Linked DNA regions of Homo sapiens: region 2 is linked to region 1. Evidence: fine-mapped expression QTL. Tissue or cell type: whole blood. Region 1 holds a variant in brackets; the other region holds the start of a gene. All regions are shown on one strand. Distances are between the middles of the regions.

The links.
Region 2: STK4 starts here. The variant in region 1 is fine-mapped to the expression of STK4 in whole blood (INTERVAL, PIP above 0.99).

What each region holds. Positions count from the first base shown.
Region 1 is chr20:44,985,983-44,990,376 of GRCh38, forward strand. It overlaps STK4 (serine/threonine kinase 4), which reads left to right. Exons shown (of 11, transcript NM_006282.5): 5 at 1,150-1,314. Among named protein-coding and RNA genes, the nearest start is that of STK4, 22 kb to the left of the region's middle. The variant C/T (reference allele first, on the strand shown) is at 2,217.
Region 2 is chr20:44,964,278-44,968,671 of GRCh38, forward strand. STK4 (serine/threonine kinase 4) reads left to right here and starts at 2,235. Exons shown (of 11, transcript NM_006282.5): 1 at 2,235-2,326. The coding sequence starts at 2,292. It overlaps STK4-DT (STK4 divergent transcript), which reads right to left and starts at 2,181. Exons shown (of 3, transcript NR_038341.1): 1 at 1,840-2,181; 2 at 1,285-1,408; 3 at 1-1,171. RefSeq lists silencers at 2,060-2,309, 3,990-4,119 and an enhancer at 3,450-3,529.

The DNA.
Region 1 (4,394 bases):
CTGCAGAAAGTCTATATTGGCCAGATCAGATATTCTATACTAGTTTCTAGCATTCTCACTTTCAACAGATATTTTTTTCAGTGCCTACTGTGTGCCAGGTGGCTTTATTGGTATTAGGGAAACAAAAGTAAACAAATCAGACATTTTTAGGAGCTTGTGTTTCTAACAGGGATGATATCACATACATAGATAAATAATGGGTAATATGTCAGATGGTAGTATACTGCAGTGACAAGGTAATTTAAGGGAATAGAGTATGAGCTAGAAATGGAGTAAGAAAGCCCTCTCCATTTTCTGAGGAGGTGATATTTGGGCAGATTACAAACTGAGGAAGCATACTGGATAGACATCAGGATGAAGAGAATAGGCAGTTGAAAAGTCCCAGAAAGGGGAGTGTGCTTAGAGTGTTTGAGGAACAGCAAGGAAGCAAGCCCTTGTTGAAACAGATTGAGCAAGGTAGAAAGTGGTAAAAGATGAAGTTAAAGAGGTAGCTGAGAGCCAGATCATGTAAAGCCTTGGTAAGGACTGACTTTTATTTTAAGTGGGTTAGGAAGACATTGGTAGGTTTTGACTCTGGCTTACATTTTAATTATAGCTTCTGTGTGGAAAATACATTGTAGAGTGTCAAGAGCAGAAGCAAAGAAGCCAGTCGGGAGATTATGAGAATAGTGCAGTCAGGACACGATGGTGACTTGGACCATGGTGATTACAGAGGGTGTATTTGGATATACAGTGTTTTGAAGATAGAGAAAAGTCAAGGATGACTTCAAGGTTTTTGACCAGAGCAACTGAAAGAATAAAGTTTCCTTTTACTGAGAGAGGGAGGACTGTGGGAGAAGTGGAGTAGGTTGGAAGGATCAGAGGGAGAGGGGTAAGGTGATAGACATAGAGTTTGATTTTGACATGTTATGCTTATGATGCTGGCTAGGTATTCTAGTTGGAGATACATAAATCTGATTGAGGGGAGATCTGGTATGGAAATATAGCCTTGGGAGTGGTCAGTGTATCTATGGTATAAGCAGTCAAATGCTGTTCACAGGTTGAATAAGATCTGTTTATATTAAAGAAAGGTTTGGATCTGATTTTTTCTCCTTTTTCTAATGCGCTGATGTAAACTGATAGAATTTGAACTTCTTATTCTTTTTTCAGTTAACAGAAGATGAAATAGCTACAATATTACAATCAACTCTTAAGGGACTTGAATACCTTCATTTTATGAGAAAAATACACCGAGATATCAAGGCAGGAAATATTTTGCTAAATACAGAAGGACATGCAAAACTTGCAGATTTTGGGGTAGCAGGTCAACTTACAGTAAGTAAAAATATTACTTGTATTGATAATTTTCATTTCTGTCCTGAGAAGCAGTTCCTTTTATTTACCTATTTTTAAAATATAATACTTGACTTAATTGTATTAGTAAAAAATCACAGAATCTGCCAATAGGTTACAAAAGAGCTAGTTAGTGGGTTATTTTAGATCTTTTCCTGGGGTTCAGGTCACATAGCTTAACTTTGTTCAACTTTTATAAAGATGAAAAGTAAAGCAAGAAATGATAGATTACTCTAGTGCACTACATCAACATATTTATAAAAGGAAGAAAAATTAAGAGGAAGAAAAATTAAGTCCAAACTGCTTTCCTTGACTAAGACATAACATCATCTCATTCAACTTCCAGGTAGTACTTGGCAGTTACTGTACTGAAAACACTCTGTTCGTTTGAGTCCAGGATACAGTCTCTTGATTCTTCTCCTGCCTAACTAGTGCATGGAAGTGAAAAAAGAAAAAAAAAAACTTGTTTTCAAAATAGGAAGTCTAGAATTATTTGATTCTACATAAGTATATATGAAAGTATATATAGAAAAATAGAAATAGTTTTAGGCAGGTATACTCTAAAATTTGCAAAAATATTACATATCAAGTGGTTTTCTTGGGTGGTAGAATGAATATATATAGTGTGTGTTTAGAACTGGTGTTATGTACGGTTTTTTTTTTATTATTTTTTTTTTATTATAAGTCTGCCTGGGACATGTTAGGGAGCCTCAGGTATTGTAACAGCACAGAAATTGCTTTGATGTTTAAAATAAATCAGAACCTTATTCAGTATCATGATTTGTGGGCTCTCCAAAAGGTTTTGTTGTTAACACAAAAGTAAACAGTACCAGACAATATTACCTAAACCACAGTCTTAGTCAGGAAACCAAATTGAAAAAATA[C/T]ACCCTCTGATGGTCTATAAAATAATATAATATTGGCCGGGTGCAGTGGCTTATGCCTGTAATCCCAGCGCTTTGGGAGGCTAAGGTGGGAGGATCACTTGAGGTTAGGAGTTCGAGACCAGCCTGGCCAACATGGTGAAACCCCATCTCCACTAAAAATACAAACATTAGCCGGACATGGTAGCGCACGCCTGTAATCTCAGCTACTTGGGAGGCTGAACCTGGGAGATTGCGCCATTGCACTCTGCACTCCAGCCTGGGCAACAGAGTGAGACCCCATCTCAAAAAAAAAATGTGTATGTATGTATGTGTGTGTGTATATATATGTGTGTGTGTATATATATATATATATATATATATATATATATATGTATCCATTCCATTTACTAATTTTAGTAATTGATTGATTACCCAATAATGACTTACAGTGTTCTTATTGCTATAATGCCTGCCTTGGCAGAATTTTTCTCCCCTTTTAATATGTACAATTCAGTGTTTAGTATATTCACAAAATTGTGCAGCTATTGCCAATGTCTAATTCCAGAACATTTTCATCATCCTCAAAATAAACTGTACCCTTTAGCTGTTAGTCCCCATTCTCTTCCCAGCCCTTGACAACCACTAATCTACTTTCTGTCACTATAGATTTGCATATTCTGAATATTTCATATAAATAGAATCATACATAATGTGCCCTTTTGTTTCTGGCTTCTTTTGTTTAACATAATGTTTTTGAGTTCATCCATGTTGTAACATGCATCAATTCTTCATTCCTTTTTATTGCTCAGTAATATTCCATTGTGGCTGTAACACATTTTGTTTACTTATTCATTAGTTGAATATTTAGATTGTTTCTGCTTTTTGGCTGTTAGGAATAATGCTACTGTGAAATTTGTGTACAGGTTTTTATGTGAACCGTTGTTTTCATGTGATACACAGAGTTGCTGGATCACATGGTAACTCTGTGTTTAATTTTTTAAGGAACTGCCAAACTGTTTTCCAAAGTGGCTCACCATTTTGTGTTCCCTGCTGATGTATGAGAATTCCAACTTCTCTGCATCCTCGCCAACATTTTCTTTTTTGTGTTTTTGATTATAACCATCCTAGTGAGTATGAGGCAGTATCTCTTTGTGGTCTTGATTTGCATTTTACTAATGACTAGTGATGTCGACTGTCATTTTTTCTGCTTATTGGACATTCGGGTATCTTTGGGAAAATGTCTATTTAAATCTTTTGCCCATTTTTAATTGGGTTATTTACCTTGTTATTGTTGAATTAAGAGTTCTTTATATATTTTAGATATAAGTCTCTTATGTACATGATTTGCAAATATTTTCTCTCATTCTGTGGGTTGTCTTGAAGGTGTCCTTTGAAATACAAAATTTTTAAATTTTGGTCGTGTCCAGTTTCTTTTTTCTTTTGTTGCTTGTGCTTCTGGTGTCACATCTAAGAAATCATTAGCTAATGCAGGGTCATGGAGATTTACTCCTATGATTTCTTTGAAGTGTTTAATGGTTCTAGCTCTTATGTTTAGATCTGTAATCTGTTTTGAGTTAGTTTTCATGGTGTGAGATAGGCATCCAATTTCATTCTTTTATATGTTGATATGTAGTTGTTCCAACATTTGTTGAAAAGACTGTTTTTTCTTTGTTGAAATGTATGAGTTTATTTCTATGCCTTCAATTCTATTCCATTGACCTATATGTCTGTCCTTGCACCAGTTCTGTGCTGTCTTGATTACTGTAAGTTTGAAGTAATTTTTGAAGTTGGTTAAGTGTGAGTGTTCCAACTTTGTCCTTCTATTTCAAGATTGTTTTGGCTATTCTGGGTCCCTTGTATTTCCACATAAATTTTAGGATCAGCTTGTCAATTTCTGCAGAAAAGGCCGTTGGGATTTTGGTAGACATTATTTTGAATCGTAAATCAGCTTGAAAATACTGCCATTTTGGCAATATTGTCTTCCGATCTATGAATATAAGCTGTCTTTCCATTTATTTAGATTTTCTTTAATTCTTTTAGCAATGTTTTATAATTTGCAGTGTACAAGTTTTGCATGTATTTGGTTAAATTCATTCCTAAGTAGTTTGTACTTTTTGATACTATTTTAAATGGATTTGCCTTATTTTCAGATTGTTCATTGCTAGTGTAACATACAATTGATTTTTGTATATTATCTTG
Region 2 (4,394 bases), 22 kb before region 1:
CCTTGGCCTCCAAAAGTGCTGGGATTACAGGTGCAAGCCATCATACCCAGTCCCTTGAATACTGTTATGCAATTGTTCCCCATTTTCTGCCAGGTGTTGGTTTGAGGATCTATTAGGATACTAAAATGTGAGTATACTCATGTACTATAGTTGACCCTGCAGAACCTATGGAAACGAAAAGTCAGCCCACCCTATACACAGGTTTCACATCCCATACTGTATTTTCCAACCATGTTTCATTGTGGATGTGGAACCCTCTGATAGAGAGGGCTGACTGTATTTATTGAAAACAAAACAAAACAAAACAAGGGTTGTATTGGTGGACCCATGCAGCTCAAACCCTTGTTGTTCCCAGGTCAACTGTATATCCAGAGCTTATAGGAAAATACCTCTCCCAGTAACCCTGCTCACCATTTCTCTCTTAAGCTATTATTATGATTAGCCACGGTTTGCTATTTAAATTTAAATTTAAATAAAAATGTGGCCTTTCAGTTATGCTAGCCACATTTAAAGTGCTCAATAGCCATATGTGGCTAATGGTTACTATTTCGGACAGCACATATTTAGAACATTCCCATCATTTCAGAAATTTTCATTGGGAACACTCTGCGGAAAAAGGGGGCCATCATAATGTGAGTCCATCTTCTGGAAAAATCCTGGGAAGGGGACAAAGGAGGTCTGTTTGGCATTGTGTAATGGTAATTTGGTATTTAATTTTCAAAAATGTTTACCCAATTCCTATTCATCAGCCAGGTGTGGTGGCTCTTGCCTGTAATCCCAGCACTCTGGGAGGCCGAGGTGGGAGGACTGCTGCAGCCCAGGAGTTTGAGACCAGCCTGGGTAATAATAGGGAGATCCTGTTTCTACAAAACACCAAAAACAAAACAACAACTTTGATGTTGTGGAGTCAGGACAGTCCTGGGTTAAAACCTTTGCTCTCCTTAGCTGTGTAAACCGTGGGTCTCAGCTTTCTTATCTGTTAACGGTAGGTACTTCTTCCTAGGGCTGTTTTGAGGATTAAGTGAAAGTCCAAGATTGTGTCTGGCACACAGTAGCTTCTCAGCAAATGTTTTCCTCCTATGTCAGGGAATGGCTCCTTTATCCCGTTTTGGGCCCATGGGTGGCCCTGAAGGGTGGGTGCTCAGGTGTTAAGTTCTGTAGATGGCATATCCTTGGGAAAAGCAAGGCAATTAAAAACAGTGAGAGGTTGCTCTGGTTAAGTTTTCTCCTATAACTTTCCCCATGGGTCAATTGGGTAGAATCTGCCATTTTCCTAATACTTACTGATGGTAGTGGCATTCGGAAGCACAATAGCTGAAGCCGGAGCTCTGAGTGGAGAGAAAGGTCTGTTTCTCAGGCCCAAAAAGAGGTTACACACCCATGGCTGTCCAGTTTGGTGGTGCAGGCCCTGAAATCAGACCAAACTGGATTTAAATCCCCAAACCTATACTCTAAGCTATGTGACCTTGGGCTAGATACTTCACCTCTCTGGCCTTATGAAGTAGGAATAATAATAATACCGTCTAGGTTGTTAGGAGTATTAAATGAGGTAAAGCACTGAAAACGTTTAGGGACTGTGTTAAATCATTAAATAAATAAAAACGGGGATGACCTTATCGGCTTGACACAGGGGATTAAATGAGATAATATATGAAGACAAGTACACGGCAAATGCTTAATTAATGTTGCTTATTTTTATGTCTGCAAACTGACTTAAAGGGGAGGCCTTTAAGAAAGACAGTGGGGCAATTTGCGCGTTGATGCATTGTAGGAGAAAATGTGCAGGGGGCCCGTTGGGACCAGAGTTCAACCAGGTAAGCGGCAGAAAACCACAAATACCTCCAGGCGTTCCTGGGGCAGCGCCGCCTCCCCAAAATCACGCAAAACTTGGTTTGCTAAGAATTGTCAGCTCTTCTAAAGGAGGCGCTTCACGCATCTCAGTCTGTGAAATGGGACCCAGGACCCAGGTAGAGGTGCGTTCTCGGCCTGGGGACCGAGTATTTTGTGCGCTCCGGTAACGCAGGAAGACAGCGCCACTGACACTCTAGAGACCAGCGGGCACCGCCTGGAGGCGCCTTCACCACTTGGCGGTTCCGGGTCCGCGCCCCACCGCGCCACAAGACTCACGCCCGAACCACGTGATCAGGGCCGTGGCTCCGCCCCGCTCCCGCGCCGCGCGCCGCTTCCGGTAGGGGCGGAAAGCGGAAGTGTGGGAGGGTCTGCGGGGCGGGCTCAGGAGGTCCGCGGGAGGATGGAGCAGTGAGCGGGTCTGGGCGGCTGCTGGCAGCGCCATGGAGACGGTACAGCTGAGGAACCCGCCGCGCCGGTGAGGGGCCACTGGCTAAGAGGACGGGCATGGGGTCAGGGGAAGAAAAGGCGGGAACTGGTTGAGGGGATACACCTGTGTGGGAGTCCCCGGAGCTAAGCGACCCAGCCGATGGGGCACCTGCTGAGTGAGGGGGGGGACGTCTGGTGGGTGAGGGTCCGGCTGAGGGGAGCATCTGCTAAGGAGGTTAGACTTGGGACCGGTTAGAGGGAGCACTCGCTGTGGTGAGACTGTGCTGAGGAACGTGGGGACAAGTTAGGGAGAGTACCTGCTGAGGCCGGGCCACTCGGGGGAACGCTATCCAAGCAGGGACTCACGGAGGTGGGGGCGAATGCTGAAGCAGGGTGAGAATCTGTGAGGGATCTCTTTAAGGGGGTGGATCGAGAACTGGCCAAGAGGAAGGCCGGGTGGACTTTCTAAGGGTCTGAAGTCCCACTTGAGGGGTGCGGTGGGGGGATCTGTGGAGGGGAAAAGCTTTGCGCCTAAGGCTGAAAGCATGCGAGGAAAGGTTGAGGGTCTAGCAAGGGAGGGGATGGTGGAGGGTAGCATTTCAGAGGATGCTGTTGGTGGTGTCCCCACTGTAGGATGGCATCTTTTATTACTGATGTTCAGTGTCTTCCTAATGGTCTTCACATCCTCCTCAGCTCTTCAGAACCTGACATTGGGAGGTAGGTAAGGAAATAAGAGGATATTTTCGAGATGGGGAGACTGAGGTCCAGAGTAGTTGGGAAGTGTTTCCTTCTTTACTCCGGGTCACTGAACCCTGCCAGTCTGTGCCCTTTTCAGGCCTCAGTTGTTTTGTGAATATCAGCACCAAATCCTAGTGGTACCTGGAATTGCTTTAGTTCAAGATCAGGATGGTGGCTGATCCTAGAAAATCTCAACTCCTGGATTTCCCTTGTGGACATCCCGGGTCTTTTGCCACTCTACCACATCTGGAGAAAAGTAGGGACTAGAGACCGAAGGAGTCATGCTTCTCTGAGGTTCAGTGTGGTTACTTCTATTTCACAGAGACGTCTGACTTCCTGCAGCAGAATGAGCTCTAAAGAAGGAAGTGTTCAGGGTGTGGAAGTGCAGGGCAACCAAGAGGTGAAGAGAAGGGATTGACTGCCTGGGCAGCACTCTTAGGGGTTGTTTGAGCTTGGGGATGTTTGAGGTGCACAAACATTGCAGAAGGCAAATAGGTGGTTGGGATGGGCTTTGGATTCACCCTAGCGTAGTGTGCTGAGACTGTAATAGTAATGATTATTACACTCATATTGCACTTACCGGGTGCCAGGCACTGTTCTAAGTGCTTTCCATGTGTCCTGCTGAAGCATATGAAATTGCTGATATTTGACCATTTTTGAACCATAAAAACCTCATTTGAACTCATTTGAACCTCACAACAATCCTGTGTGGTAGATATCCCTATATGTCTGTTTTACAGATGATAAAACTGAGATACAGAGGGTAGTGATTTGCTGGGAGAAGTCATAGCAAGTAAGAGACAGAGCTAGGATTTTAATGTCTATGGGGTCTGGTCCAAAGTCCATGTTCTTTTTTTTTTTTTGAGACGGAGTCTCACTCTGTCGCCCAGTCTGAAGTGCAGTGGCGCAATCTCGGCTCACTGCTACTTCCGCCTTCTGGGTTCAAGCGATTCTCCTGCCTCAGCCTCCTGTGTAACTGGGACCACAGGTGCGTGCCACCACGCCTGGCTAATTTTTTGTAGTTTTAGTAGAGACGGGGTTTCACCGTGTTAGCCAGGATGGTCTCTATCTCCTGACCTCGTGATCCGCCCACCTTGGCTTCTCAAAGTGGTGGGATTACAGGCGTGAGCCACCGGGCCCGGCCATGCTCTTAACTGCCTCACTCTGATGCCTCTCTAAAAGTACCCCTGTTTCACAGGTCTCTGTGTATGTTAGCAGATATTTACTATAGTACCATAGTGATCCAATTATGAATGCACACTAGTTATGTTTCTTTCTGAACTATGTTCGTTCGTTCTTCTTGGTTTCTTTCTCCGAGGCCTTGGTTTAATTGAAAAGAGGATTAGGAATCTGAGTTTTGTTTCCCCCTTTGCCTTGTC